Regions from separate parts of the Homo sapiens genome. Here regions 2 and 3 are each linked to region 1. Evidence: fine-mapped expression QTL. A gene starts in region 1. Each other region holds a variant in brackets. All regions are shown on one strand. Distances are from middle to middle.

The links.
Region 2: its variant is fine-mapped to the expression of CDKAL1 in tibial artery (GTEx, PIP 0.94).
Region 3: its variant is fine-mapped to the expression of CDKAL1 in whole blood (TOPMed, PIP above 0.99). The same link has a PIP of 0.9 or more in monocytes.

Annotation. Positions count from the first base shown.
Region 1 is chr6:20,531,697-20,536,921 of GRCh38, reverse strand. CDKAL1 (CDKAL1 threonylcarbamoyladenosine tRNA methylthiotransferase) reads right to left here and starts at 2,465. Exons shown (of 16, transcript NM_017774.3): 1 at 2,348-2,465; 2 at 1,528-1,571. RefSeq lists enhancers at 2,267-2,346, 2,377-2,536.
Region 2 is chr6:21,198,634-21,203,858 of GRCh38, reverse strand. It overlaps CDKAL1 (CDKAL1 threonylcarbamoyladenosine tRNA methylthiotransferase), which reads right to left. Exons shown (of 16, transcript NM_017774.3): 15 at 2,585-2,749. Among named protein-coding and RNA genes, the nearest start is that of LINC00581, 310 kb to the left of the region's middle. The variant C/T (reference allele first, on the strand shown) is at 2,597.
Region 3 is chr6:21,231,092-21,236,277 of GRCh38, reverse strand. It overlaps CDKAL1 (CDKAL1 threonylcarbamoyladenosine tRNA methylthiotransferase), which reads right to left. Exons shown (of 16, transcript NM_017774.3): 16 at 3,874-5,186. Among named protein-coding and RNA genes, the nearest start is that of LINC00581, 280 kb to the left of the region's middle. RefSeq lists an enhancer at 4,858-5,186. The variant C/A (reference allele first, on the strand shown) is at 2,475.

The DNA.
Region 1 (5,225 bases):
CACAGTTGCAAAGCAATGTCCAGTGGTTTTCAAAGTGTAGTTTCCACATCAGCTGGAGTAGCATCATGGGGAACTTGTTAGAAATGAACATTTTTTCTTTTTCAGTTTTTTTGTAAAAACAAGGTCTCGCTTTGTTGTCCAGGCTGGTCTCAAACTCCTCCCATCTTGGCCCCTAAAGTATGGGATTACAGGCATGAGCCACCATGCCCAGCCAGAAATGAAAATTCTTGAACTCCACTCCAGACATACTAAATCAGATATTTTGAGTAAAACCTAGCAATATTTAACAGGCCCTCTAGGTGATTTTGATCTGAATTAAAGTTTGATAATCACTGTCCCAGAATTATTCTTTCATAAAAACCACCTAGAATGTATGTCAAATATACATAACCTAGACAATTCAAGGGGGAAAGCGTAGTTTTTTTTTCAACAAATGACACTGGGATAACTGGATAGCAACATGTAAAAAATAAAGTTGGAGCCCTATTTCACATTTCACATCATATACAAAAATTAACCGAAAATGGATCATAGACCTAAATTTAGGAGCTAACATTATGAAACTCTTAGAAAAAAACATAAGCACAAATCTTTATGATGTTAGAGTAGGCCCTTCTTTCTTAGCTAAGAAATGAAAAGCACAAGCAACAAAAGGAAAAACAGATTAGATGAAGAAGATACAGAAATGGGCCAGGTGCAGAGGCTCATGCCTATAATCCCAACACTGGGAAGCCAAGGTGGCAGGATCACTTCAGGCCAGGAGTACAAGGCCAGAGCCTAGGCAACACGGACCCTATCGCTACAAAAAAAAAAAAAAAAGTAAAATTTAGCCGGGCATGGTGGCATGCACCTGTAGTCCCAGCTACTTGGGAGGCTGAAGTGGGATCACTTGAGACCAGGTGGTCAAGGCTGCAGTGAGCCGTAATCGAGCCACTGCACTCTGGCCTGGGTGGCATAGGGAAGCCGTGTCTCAAAAACACACACATACAAATGGCTGATAAGCACATGAAAAGATGTCAACATCATGAGCCATCAGGGAAATGGAAATCCAAACCACAATAATACACCACTTCATACCCATTAGGATGGGTAGAATCAAAAAGACAAATAACTGTTGACAGGCATGTGGATTACATCACCCAGAGGGGAAGAAAAAGAGAACAGAGGTAGGAGAAGGTACAAGACCACGACTTGAGAGACTCCAAATTTAACTGCCAGATAAAGGAAAATCAGCTTATAATGGATTCCAAGAAGCAGCCACCAGACAAGGAAAAAAATCCATGGGCCATGGAAGGCAAATGAAAAGGGCATCTCAAAAAAGTGGACATGGTCAATGCTGGTGAATGAAAATGAAAGGTTAAGTAAAATAAATGAAAATATCTCTTCGATTTAATGCTATGTAAAGCACAATGTTTCCATAACATGATAGTGGCAAATAGCTAAAACATTAGGCTACCTCTCTGCATTTTCTAACATGCAGAAATACGCACAGCACTCAAACATAAAAGGTTTAAAATAAATCAGTACCTTAATTATCTGCAATTAGTCTAAAGTCCTCTTGAAAGATGAGTCTGGAAAATAAAAATTGATTAGGAAAAGTAAGCACCCAAAAAGTTCACAAAACCACTGTAAGGATTCTTTACTTAAAAGGAATCAGACTCCATAAAAGACTGCTTTATACAGCAGGATTAATGATGCTCCATACTACTTGTAACTTCTTACTGATTACAACAGGTGTGCTGACATCTGCCGTGACGGTGATCCAGTGTCTGGCTTTAGTAATAAATGTTGTATTCAGCACCGCAACACGTCTGCATAGTGCGAGTAACCAACCACTACAAAACAGGATTAAGTCAATAAGGTAGATAGACATCCAGATCACGTTCCATCCGAAAGATAACTGTCGTCCCGAGATTCAGAAAAAGGTTTTATGAGCAAAGAAGAACGAAAAGTGAAAAAGCAAGACACCTGCTTTTCTCAATAACTTCTGCTTAAATTCTTAACATACTGATCTGGGAAAGCTATATAACTGCGAAAGCCTTGTCACATCTACAAATTCACTAAGGTATAAAGTGGGAGAACAAATGAAGTTAAACCTGACAATAAGGAACGAGGTGCCTAAAATACTCCTAACTGGAGAGCGGCACCTGAGGCCAACGACCCTATCCTCGCTCCTGGAAGCCCCATCTGCCTCCCAATTCCCCCATCCCAGCTGGCAAATCCCCTTTTAACTGCGAAACAAATTTGCAAACAGCCCAAGAAAAACTGAAACTGGAGAAACAAGGCTTGGCCATAAAAGGAGCTGTGGCCACACTCTGCCCCACATGGACCCATCGGCCACCCTTACCCAGAAGTCGGGAAGTAAAAACCAGTCCAAAGTGAGAAAATCAACCCGCCACTCTCCGGAAGCTGCACAGACTTTAGATGGAGAGCGCCATGACACATACGTCCCGCCACGTTTATTTGCGCATGCTCAGCGACGGTGGCCCGAAGAGATCAAATTACATCATTGCTGAAAGCGCTAGTTCTGGTTTAACTTAGTTTAGGAATGACTACGCTTCAAGTTCCTTTGATTCCAAGAACTAAAATAACAACCCTGAGTCCTCGGGTTCCTAGAAATGCTTAATAGCCAACTTCTCCTAAGCTTTTATGTGTTAGACACTGTGCTAAGTACTTTGCATAAATATTATTCACTATTTATTTATTATTATTATTATTCCCAGTTTACAAAAGAGGACACTGGAAGTTTAAGGACTTAATCTAAGTTACTCTACTAGTCGTGCTGCGCTCTGGGCTGGATCCGATGCTGTCTGACTCCCAAAGAACTTGCTCTTTTCACTGCATTTTACTAGCCTCCTCAATCATTTGTGAAAAGAGGTCTCTTCTTTAATATTAAAAAAACAGGAAGGAAAGGATAAAGGTCAGTTGGTAGGTTTCACTTAATATACATCATTGAGCACCACACAAGTGTTTTTGTTTTTTGTTTTGGAAAACTTAGATGGCAGTTTAGCAGACACCTATGGAAAGAAAATACTTTTATGGAGTACGGATTCTCACCCGCTTTCTCTACATATGTTATCTCACTTTACTATTCGTTACCCAAGACACTGTATTTGACCATGTGTTTACCAGAAGAATATCTTTACTTGAAAAAGTAAAGGTAATAGGAGGCAATAGGCCATGAAGAAGGGTCAGAAATCGTGAGTTTTATGCCTGACTTAGGGTTTCATAGTGATTTGGGGCAATTACTTTGTTTTGCAAATGCCTTTCCTAGTACAATTTCATCTAATTAAAATGCCATCCATCTACTCAAGAGGCTGATGTGGGAGGATCACTTGAGCTCAGAAGTTTGAAAACAGCCTGGGCAACACAGTGAGACCCAGTCTCTAAAATAGATTTAAAAAAAAAAAAAAAAACCACCCTTTTCTCTGTTTATCCATATCCATAAAATAATCTAAACTGTGCCCTGGGGTCCACTGTTGTCTTTACCCACCTAAATTAAAATTGTGTATTTATGTTGCCCTACTTTTTTTTTTTTTTTTTTTTTTTTTTTAGATAGGGTCTTCTTCTGTCACCCAGGCTGGAGTACAGTGTTACCATCACAGCTCACTGCAACCTCTCCCTCCTAGCCTCAAGAGATTCTCATGCCTTAGCCTCCCAAGTAGCTGGGACTACAGGTGCACACCACCATACCCATCTAATTCCATCTCTTTCACTAGACCAAAAGTAGGCCCTGGGTTATCTTCTTGGTTGTAATCGCACTACCTAGCACATAACCTTGTGCCTATGTTTATAGCTTCTCAATAAACATATGTTGAATGAATGAATGAATGAATGAATGACTCCACCCCTTTTCCCCCAAGATCTAGTTGAGTTCAGTAAAAGATATTTTACTGAGTATGTACCCCATGACCACAAGCACTGTGATAGATGCTAGAGCTAAAAAGAAAGAAAAAAAGTACTGCCTATTGCAATTGCAGGCTATTTTGAAAAAATTCATTTCAGTAGAGAATAGCAATCACTATGAAAGATGAATGCACAGGAACACAAAGGTGAAGTAAGGGAAATGGATGAAGGCATTCCAAGCTGGAGAGTCAGCCAGAGCAAAAGCAAGGAGGCCTGAAATGATGAATTATTCCACAGTGTAAAAGCAAAGAGAGTGAAGCTGGTGATGGGAGAAGTCTACCAGAGAAAGGGAAGCACAGGGACTAGATCAAGGTGAACCTTGTGTATTCAAAGGCATTAGACTTAATCCTGGATGTATGTAGTAGGCAACATGAATGTGTTCGAGCAGATTATTCTCTCAGGACAATGGGTTTGAGGACGATATTTCAGACATGAAGAAATAGTAAAAGCCTAAATTGAGTTGTTGGCTGGGAGGAATGGGAAGGAAGGACAGATTTAAACAAATTGAGGAGGTAACAGCAGCAAGACTTGGTGATTGATAGGTACGAAAAAAGAGGAAGAAAGGATGTTTTCAAGTTTTGGCTACAAAAACTAACTAACAGGTGAAACCTCTCTCTTTAAGCACCTTTAGTCTAAATCCTTTGAAGTCAGTAACCCTACCTCTAGGAATTTATCTTACAGAAATATACATAATGACCTATGTTCCAGAGTATTTTTTGAAGCATTGCTTACAATGACCTATGTTCCAGAGTATTTTTTGAAGCATTGCTTACAATGACCTATGTTCCAGAGTATTTTTTTAAGCATTGCTTACAATAGCAAAAGACTGGAAACCCTCTCCGGCTCCTCCTCAATAGAGTATTGGTTAAATATATTTATAGTATCTGTACAACCTTTGAAAAGCAACCAGTAAGTCCGGGTGCAGTGGATCACGCCTGTAATCCTAGCACTTTGGGAAGCCGAGGCGGGTGGATCGCCTGAGGCCAAGAGTTCAAGACCAGACTGACCAACATGGTGAAACCCTGTCTCTACTAAAAATACAAAATTAGCTGGGTGTGGTGGCATATGCCTGTAATCCCAGCTACTCAGGAGGCTGAGGCAGGAGAATCTCTTGAACCCAGGAGGTGGAGGTTGCAGTGAGCGGAGATTACACCATTGCACTCCAGCCTGGACAACAAGAGCGAAACTCCATCTCAAAAAGATTAAAAAAAAAAAAAAAAGGCCAGGCACGATGGCTTACGGCTGTAATCCCAGCACTTTGGAAGGCTAAGGTGGGCGGATCACGAGGTCAGGAGATCAAGACCATACTGGCTAACATG
Region 2 (5,225 bases), 670 kb before region 1:
CGGGTGTGGTGGCGCACGCCTGTAATCCCAGCTACTCGGGAGGCTGAGGCAGGAGAATCGCTTGAACCTGGAAGGTGGAGGTTGCAGTGAGATCATGCTATTGCACTCCAGCCTGGGCGACAAGCAAAACTTCATTTCAGGAAAAAAAAAAAAAAAAAAAAAAAAAAGAGGTCAAGTGAGACAAAATAAGTCCAAAGCACAGTATTTTGCTTTAGATGCCAGGGAGACCAAGGTGGGAGGACCGTTTGAGGCCTGGAGTTCAAGACGAACTTGGGCAACAAAGCGAGATCCTGTCTCTAGAAAAAATAAACAGTATCAGCTGGGGCCGAGCACAGTGGCTCATGTCTGTAATTCCAGCACTTTGGGAAGCTGAAGTGGGCGGATCACCTGAGGTCAGGGGTTCGAGACCAGCCTGGCCGACATGGTGAAACCCTGTCTCTACTAAAAATAAAAAATTAGCCGGGCGTAGTGGCACATGCCTGTAATTCCAGCTACTCAGGAGGCTGAGGCATGAGAATTGCTTGAACTTGGGGGGTGGAGGCTGCAGTGAGCTGACACTGCATGCCACTGCACTCCAGGCTGGGCAACAGAGTGAGACTCTGACTCAAAAAAAAAAAAAAAAAAAAAAAAAAAAAAAAAAAAATTAGCCAGGATGGTGGTGCATGCCTATAGTCCCAGCTACTCAGGAAGCTGATGTGGGACGATTGCTTGCGCCCAGGAGGCAGAGTTTGCAATGAGCTGTGATCACACCATTGCACTCCAGCCTGGGTGACAGAGGGAGACCCTCTCTCAAAACAAACAAACAAACAAGAACCAACAAAAGCCTTACTGTTTCTCTTAATGTAAATACCCAAATCAATATTCCTACCCCACTGGCCTCATGCTACAACACTATTTCTAGAGGCTCTAACAGACCAGCAACCAACTGGCTTCCTCATCTTATCCGGGACTTTTGGGCCATTCTGGTTCAGAGCTGGGCTGGTGGTAGAACTGATAACACCATTTTCTAGGCTAGAGGAAAGGATGGGAGAGTAGAAAGGGTGCCCCAGAGAATTTAAACGGAACTGCCCTTTTAGACAGTAACACTATAGTTAAGGAACGAATAGAGGGACACTACATTTCCTTGTTTATGTATTATCAATGGTGATGTTTACAATACTCCCTTTCCAAGAGGCAAACATGAAGGAATTAAACCAGGCAGAGTCTTTGAAATAATAATTTCCCCACTACTGCTACTTGCTGAGAAACCCTTTTCACTGTGGCAATCTAAAATTAACCTTGTAAAACACACTATGTGGAAAAACAAAACAAAACAAAAAATAAGCTGACTTCTTAAAAAATTTTTCAAAGTATTGGCTAACATATCAAAAGCCAAATCTCTAGCAATATAATTTAAATGCCAGGTTACACTGCTCCTTCCTGGCCACCCATACTATCCCCCAAGTACAATTTTTTTTTTTTTAATAAACAGCAAAAATGAATGGTTATGTTTATCAAGTTTTAGAGTTATCTCCTGATCATGCAGGCTGATGCATTTGGTAGGATTTTAACAAAAGCTGGTCTATACCATTCCAGTACGGGTTAGACGGCCATGCACGCAGATCCTTCATGGGCACTTGTGAAGCACATGTGAATTATCACTGCTGTCGGACACAAGAATCCAGTGCCACAGTCAGTGAGAACACAGACAATAGTATTGTCTTTGTTGCTATTGCCAGAGTGAAGCGGTACTATTGCCAGAGTGAAGCGGTATTCCCTTTATTTTAACGAACATGTCCTTGCAATTTATTTTGAGGAACAAGATTATGCACAGATTAAAACAATTTCGGAATTACATGGCCAGATAAATATCAGTTATTTTTTTCCATATGTTAAATCACTGTTATATGCTTTTTTTTTTTAAGCGCTTAACAATTGTGTTGGAGAAAGGACATCAAATGATGCTTAGAAATGTGATACACATTTTCATTTCACACTCCATCAGCTTTTACAACTGTAGCTCAATGAAATGTGAGAGAGCTTGGCAAACGGCCATATTTACCAAGGTATAAAATAGGGGTCAGGTTACTTTTTTATAGAAAGAAAAAAATGTTTAATTTTCACTCCACATGACTAAAGTAGATATCCAGCTAACACCCTTCTGAAAGGCACCATAACTGCATATATGATATGGTTTAGTGCCTGTTCAGCTGTAGGTTTTTACTACAGTATAAACAGCTTTGTAAAGCAAGAAAACACCCCTTTCTTCATCCCCTTCCACTCAGGATCTACTGACATAGAAACATACTGGATCAGATCATCTTTTGGTGTCAACATTTTCACCTGCAAATAATGGCTTTTACCCCCTGCTTCTAAACTGGAAGCAGAAAGAGCTTATTCTCTTTACAGCCAGAGAAGCAAAGCTATCGGCATCAGCAAAAACACATCTTTCTAATTCAGATTTCAATCTGTCAGAAAGGATTAAAGCCTCATGCATACATAAAAAGGGAACTATAAATGATAACAGAAACATGGCCTGGAATCACTGTGCTTCCACAGCTGCTGTTTTACTAGCAGGGTAGAGAGGAGAGCATCTTTTACTTACCTTTGTCAAACC[C/T]GAGACTTCTCCCTTTGCTAGCGGTTTGCTGATGGAGGGCGTGTACACTTTGGCATCAGATACTGGCTGCCCTTTCATAAAATGTTTGCCTGATTCATAGATGTCCACTTCAACCATCTTCCCCATGAACGCAGGGTTCTTTGGCACTAAAACCTTAAACACATTTGTTTCAGAGGCTTAATTTTTAAAAATAAACATTTTACTTTAGAACAGTTTCAGATTTATAGAATTATTGCAAAGATAGTATGGAGAGCTCCTGTATACCTAACTCCCAGTTTTCTTATTATTTACCGTCTTACATTAGTATAGCACTTTTGCCACAATTAATGAACCCAAATTGATATATTAATATTATTAACCGAAGGCATACCTAATTATCCAGGTTTCCTCATTGTCCCTCAATGTCATTTTTCTGTTCTGGGATCCCCTACAAAGTGGACTCTATCTTCTAGCTGCTCAAGGGTCTGCAGAGCCTGCAGGAAGGAAAGGCACTCCTGGGAGGGGCTCCTGGGCCCCTGGGCAGTGCTTTTCCAGTGCAGGATGTGCCTGATGTCCTGAGGCACGTGGAAGGCAGACCTGGGAAATCCCCCAGCAATCAGCCAGCCACTTCTGGACAGGCCTTTGATATCTTGCTTTTGGCTATTCCATGCAATGAGGAAAACCGAGACAATACTGATGAAAGCCTTATACTTTTAATACTTTCCAAGTGAGCTGTCAGAGTAATGGTTTGAAAAGACACTTCAAACAGGCCTGCGTGTTTGTGTCCGTGCATGTGTGTGCTGTGTTTTGAGGGAGAAGGAGGTACATTTAAAAGAACCTTCCAATAACACTGTACACTGCTGTTTGGAGCTAAATGACTCCTGAAACTAACAGCTGCCGTTCATTTCCCTTGCTCTGTTAGAAAAGGCATGTGTTTGTCAGTCCTGGGAATCTACCTCCATCTAGAACCAGTCCTCTGAAGGGTACTTTGGCTTGTTCACAGGAAACTGTCAGGTGGTCTCTTTCCACTAGAGATTCCTGATAAAAGTACTTGTTTACTTCAAGCAAACGTTTCCCTTCCTTTGGGACCCACAGGTAGCTTGTGTGTGTGATGTCTCCCTTACACTTCTATTTTAGCACTGCAGCGACTTGCCAGTCTTTTCAAGTTAGAATCCAAAATAAATAGACCAGTTCTAATCCAGTAATACTTGGATATCTAGATACAATCTTCATCTCTGGAACTCATCTTATTTAGAAAAATAATTCCTAGAAAATCTTTGATATGCTTAGTTATAGAGACAGAAAAGTCAGATGAGAGCCAGGAGTTCCACAGCCAATCTCTCTGAAAGGCAAAATTGAATCTTGGTCTGAGTTTGATTTTTATGACCACTGAGTACACTGCTTCATCAAAGTAGAAGAAAAAGGTCACCTGGGTGGTGAATTACTTAGGGCAGGCAAAAAGAACTAAAAGAGCTTTAGTGTTAGGATATAAAAAGCCCATTTAAATCAGTTTTTATAAAATAAGAAAATCTCTAGACCAAACTAACCCTGGGAGATTTGGTACTATTCTGGGGAAAAATAACCCTCCTTGATCTGCTGCCTTGATCTGAATGAAGGGCTCAGTGTTTTCCCCTCCTCCAGTTTTAATAATTGGAAAAAGCCCGACTGCTTTAAATTGGAGGAAGCAGCTAACGAGGCATGCCACTGCCTTTAAAATGAAGGGAAAAAAGTTCCCTGCTGAGGCAAAACCCAGATGGCAAGAGAAAGGAGAGAGAAGAGGCAACCAAAATGCAATCAAGCTCCTCCCCAGGGCTGAGCAGAAGGTTGGCCTGAATAGGAAAATGGCCCTCTGGGGTATATTAATGAGATGGGGAAATGGGGAAGCGATGCAGGCCAGACATGGAGTGCTGGGAGCCCTTCCTCAACTGCAGTCTCCACCGGTACTGAACAGAGCACGTTTAGTCTGGGCTTTGAAAAGCTCCCCTGTTTCCTGGGGACGCACTGCCCAGTCTGAGATGATTCCCTGGGGAATGTCAATGCTGGGGGCCTCTTCAGCTCCTGCTTTCCTGCCTTCTGACACAGGCAGCCTGCTTCCTCTGCCCATCCCTCATCCGACTTGTCCACCTTGGCCTTCAGCATCTTCTCAAGCTCTAATTCCAGCCATGATCCATAGCAAACATTTTCACCTCTTATCTGATAAGAAAGAAGCAAAAAAGTAGGAAGCTCCATTTGATTTTAATACAATCCAGAATGATCAGTGAAAATCTCCGTACGCCCATGACAGTCTCCCACACAGGCTATCATGAGATGGGAGACACAGGCTACCATAAGATGGGAGAGGAGGGCGTATCCCATCTCTTCCCTGGCCTTGGCCCTTGCCAGGGTCAATGACCCTGAAAGAGGCACTCTCTTTTCCTCAGTCACTTTTGAATTGCTCTCCCACCTGGAGGAGTAGAAACCCTGATGCTGAAACAGAAGTCAGGCTCCTCGGTGGGCAAAGGCAGGCCAACTTAGATGGCCAGGGAAGGAGGGCTAGTAATTGGGGGCGCCCCTAGGGATGGCCTTCAAAGCTCTCACAGTGAAGCTGGTTTGATCCTCACACTGGTCTGCACAGTTGTTCATACAATTAGAGTTGAGTCCAAGGAATAGA
Region 3 (5,186 bases), 700 kb before region 1:
TAAATTAGGTTGTATCATAGAGCAGAGGTTTTCAAACTTTCTTGATTGTTTGTACCCCTAGGCCAAAAGCAGCAGCTAACCTTCTGTTTAAATAGGTAATCCTGACAACTGAATAAGCATTTATATCCTACTATCTTATGAGAACCGTTTGAAAAAATAATACATGTAACTTAGATAAAAATATTAATATTTTATTTCATATTAATTTTACTTATTAATGGCAGCTGTGCATCTGTTGGGTACAGCACCCCTTCTCAAACCTTGGACTATGATCACAATTTTCACTTCTTGTTCCACATTGATTTTCACTTGATACTTGCTTTTTATCACAGCAATTGCTGAAAATCCAGTTTTATAAAGACATGGTGTCATCAAAATTTGTGAAATCTAACGTTGAAAACTGTGAACTATTTTGAGCTGGTAGTTGGCCTGGTATCTGACAGATGTTGCTGTGTTCCCTCCAAAAATTTAAGGAATCCCAGGGTGCTCCTGTGAATGTGCCACAGCATCCTGGGGTGCCTGGGGGGACCAGCAAACCTTTTAGAAAACGTACATATTCATTTTTTATTGTGAGTATTTAAGGTGAACATGTATTGATACACATATACACAGCAAAATGGTGGCTACAGTCAAGTGAATTACCATACCCATCATCTCATATGATTACCTTTTTTGTTGTTGCTGCAAGCCTTAAGAATATCTTTTCTCCTTTTCTTTTTCTTCCTTTTCTCTCCCCTCCTTTCTTCTCTTCCCTCCCTCTCTCTCTTCATTTTTTTCCTATGTTTGTTTTATGATGACAAACCCTCTTGAAGCTTGATTTGTAACTCTAATTCTCCCTCCATGACATCTTACAATATACACTGAAATTTTCAACCTGGAGTGAAGTCAGTAGAAGTAGTATATGTTTTGACTGAATGACATATGGAAATCTGATGTTTAGACACATTTTCCCAGCAACAAAGCAAAGTTTTAACCCAAGAATTCTTTACATTCTCAAACTGACTATCTCATGCTGGGATGATAAGAAAGGAAGCAGGGATGATAAGATGAAGCAGGGACAATAGAAAGGAGGGAAAGAAAGAAGGAAGGAAGGAGGGGGCAGGGCAAAGAAAAAAGCTTGATTAGTAAATCTTTATTTAAAAAGTATATCAAGTACCATGCACATTCTTGGAGCAGGACAACACAGACTGAAAGGCTGAAGGCCCCCAAGCTCAGGCATCCACAGGATTGATCCTAAATGTGTATCTGTTGGCACAGGTCAAGTTTAAGTCAAAGATGGGACAGAGGAGCAGGAGGAGTTTACAGAAGAGGAGTATATGCTTTGGAGTCAGGCTGTGTACCAGTCCTGCCTCTAAACTTAAGAGCTCTGTGCCTCTTGCACAAGTTACTTAGTCTTTTGAGTTTTAGATTTTCTTCTCAGTATGATGGGAATCACAATACGTATCTCAAAATTTTTTCTTCAGGACTGATTAACACCTGTTAAGTGCAAAGTATAACATCCAGTGCATTTCATTTAAGGACTAGACAGTTAATGGTTGTCAATATTATCATTACTATTAAAATAGGAATGACTTGTGGAAGGGAGACAGCAGAGACAAGGTCTGCTGAAGAATATCTAAGGTCCAAAGAGAAAAAATAGTGGGAGAATGACAGAATTCATGTCAACTGCTGGTGGGGATGTAAATTGGTACAACCACTTCAGAAAACCATTTAGCAGTATCTAAGCTGAACATATGCAAATGCTATGACCCAGCAATTCCACCCCTAGACATGTACTCCTCACATCATCACATAAACACTTAACAAAACGTGTTTATAGCAGCATTATTCATAATAGACAAAAAATTGGAAAGAACTCAAATGTAGAATGAACAATGTGGTGTACTCATACACTGAAATACTATTCAGCAATGAACGTGAAGTAATTACTGCTCACACAATAATCTGGATGTGTCTCACAATCACTGTAGAACAAAAGAAGGTAGACATGAAATAGTGCATACTACATGATTCCACTTATAGAAAGTTTAGAATCAGGCAAATCAATCTGTAATGTTAGAAATAAGGATACTGGTTACTCCTTGCGGGGCAGACTTAATGGCTAGGAGGGTACATGGGGAGCCTCCTGGTGCTGGCTACAATGCTTGCTCAGTTTTTAAAAATCCCTGTATCCCTATGATTTATGTCCATTTCATATGTATGTTTTATTCTAGTAAAGAGTTTAAGAAAAAAATTGGCCAAAGCATTGAAAAGATCACTTCATAGGTTTCCTTCTCAGCAGAGAAGTACACACACACACACACACACACACACACACACACACACCCCTTGATACTAATGCAAAGCATACAAAAGCATACAAAGAAAACATAACAATTACATTTACAATCTGCGGGTCAAGCATCCTATCACGGCTGACACTTCGTATAAATCAGGTTACGAATGCTACGGCTACGACCCCCAGATGCCGGTGG[C/A]TTAACACAACCACAATATATTTCTGGTTCCTGATGCCTATGTAGCACATGCTGGCCAGGAGCCCTACTCAACTGTACTAACTCAGGGACCCAGGGTCGGGGAGGCGTCATTCTGACATATGGGTCCAGGATCACCACAGCAGTGGGAAGAGCACACAGTAAACCGTACACCAGCTCTGAACATGTCTGCCCCGAAGAAGGACGTGACCCTTCCGCTCACATTTCACATTTCGTGCCTAACTTCAGCGGGGCGGGAGAAGCGCAGTTGCACTGTGGGCAGGAAGGAGACAGGCTGGAAAAGTAACAGCTCTACTCATGATCACACTTGCTCCCGTGGTTCCCAGACTCAGCCCCATTCAGAGTCCAGGGCTTAAGAAAACTGTTTTTAACTTGCACTGCATCCTTCTCTGCTCTCTCCCTCCCCCTCCCTAGAGATGGAGGTCACAGGGGGAAGAAAAACCCTGGATTTCCAGAACACTGCTACCCCTCTCACCAATTGGTCGCCAGTATGGAGACTGATTTCATGAAGGTCCAGCGTCTGCTGCGGGCAGTGACCTCGGTCCCTTTCTGGGTCAAACGGCAGAGTGAAGCTGCAGCCAAATTGAGGGTAAATAACAGTCACAGCAGGAAGTAGGGAGAATCCTGTACAGCTGAAACGATCCTTGAGGATCCCTGCCATGGTAGGTGAGAGCAGCAGGGGGGGAATTTGGATGACTGGGTGTATCATTCTCTTACAGGAAGAAAAAAATGAAAAAAGGCGAGGACAGCATAGAGCTAGAAGGGAGGAAATAAACAGATGAGGGAGTGAGGAAAAGAGTAGGGAAAGAGAAAAGGGAGGTAGAAAAAATCCTTTTTGTCTCCAATCAGTTACAGGTGTAAAGCTTTCTCTATGTCTGATCTAGTGCAACTCTAGGCTTTGGATGGCATTTTTATCTCTGCTAGGTTTTTGTTAAATGAGCACCACACTGGAACCCACTGTTTATTAACAAAGAAATGACTGCGTAGAGCTCAAGAAGGGAGGCACATGGTAGGTTCTTGTCCTCTTCTCATTCCTGCTAAGAAGTGAGGGGTGCTCCCAAGTGGATGTTTCACTGCAGGACTAGAAGCAGCACAGGAGGATTTTTGCATTCTAAATGTGAGCACCTCTTAGAAGCACATACCAGTTCCAGGAGAAATGTACTAACACTAAAAGCATATATATTTTATAATTTACCAACTAGGACATGACTGAATTTTAATTTGGGTTCCTTAAAAGACACACAAAACACAAACATTTTGAGTTAAATGTAAGAGCTGAAGAGGGGTATGGGTTTCGAGATGGAAAATATCCTATGGTAACTACACGGTACCTGGTTTTCCTGTACCTATGCAATCCAAATAAATTCTCAAAAACATAGGATTTGCTTAGTATACCAATTCTATTTATTGTTAAAGAAAGAAGTCACTTCACTTAGTAAAGACCAATGATGGCAGGTAGAAATAAAAACATTTAATCTGGGCTGGGTGGAGTGGCTCACGCCTGTAATCCCAGCACTTTGGGAGGCTGAGGCAAGAAGACTGCTTGAGGCTAGGAGTTCCAGGCAAGCCTGGGCAACATAGTGACACTCATCTCTACAAAAAATTAAAAAATTAGTTGGGCATGGTGGTATATGCCTGTAGCCCCTGGCTATTAGGGAGGCTGAGGTAGGAGGACTGCTTGAGTCCAGGAGGTCAAGGCTGCAGTGAGCCAAGATAGTGCCATTGCACTCCAGCCAGGGTGACAGAGTGAGACCTTGACTCAAAAAAAAAAAAAAACAAAAACAAAAAAAAAACCCCAATGGATCAAAAATGTGAGAAAATGGGCACAATTAGTTTTCGACAAATCCAGTTTTCCAGTTTCATATTTCACAGAATGTTGCCAGGAGTCCTTTAGCTGGCAGACTCTCCCCGTGCATTCCAAAAGCATTCAGGTTCCCAGAACAGGTTTCTATACACTTTTCAGGAACACATCTGCTGTGAAAAATACAATGTTTGTAGCACTGGGACTCCAAACAAAGCCTGAAGGGGAAGATGCACTTAAAAATATTTATTAAAGAGGCCGGGCGCAGTGGCTCACGCCTGTAATCCTAGCACTTTGGGAGGCCGAGGCGGGCGGATCACTTGAGGTCAGGAGTTCGAGACTAGCCTGGCCAACATGGTGAAACTCCGTCTCTACTGAAAACACAAAAAAATTGTCTGGGCTTGGTGGCGCATGCCTGTAATCCCAGCTACTTGGGAGGCTGAGGCAGGAGAATCGTTTGAACCCAGGAGGCAGAGGTTGCAGTGACCTGAGATCGTGCCACTGCACCACTCCAGCCTGGGGGACAAGAGCGAAACTCCATCTGGAAAAAAAAAACAAAGAAAAAGTTTATTAAAGATAGAAAATTCTTCCACATGAGGAAAAGATGGCCAGAGCCACTGTACAATTAGGTTCTGACTTAAAGATTAGAGATTGAAACAAACAGAAAAAAATGCAACCGCTTGCATTTCTTGCTAAAAGTAAACCAAAAGCAGTTTAATTTGAAGGATGTGCTATGGTAGCGGTGATTAGGTTTTAGGTCAAATAACCAATGGGCCCAACTCAATGTGAGACAGGGGGAGCCTCATTAAGAAGAGTGGCTGAGAAGGAGGCAGCATGACCAGTACAAATTATTGCCCTTGGAGAATGGAGATGTCGCTTTCCTGTTCATTGAA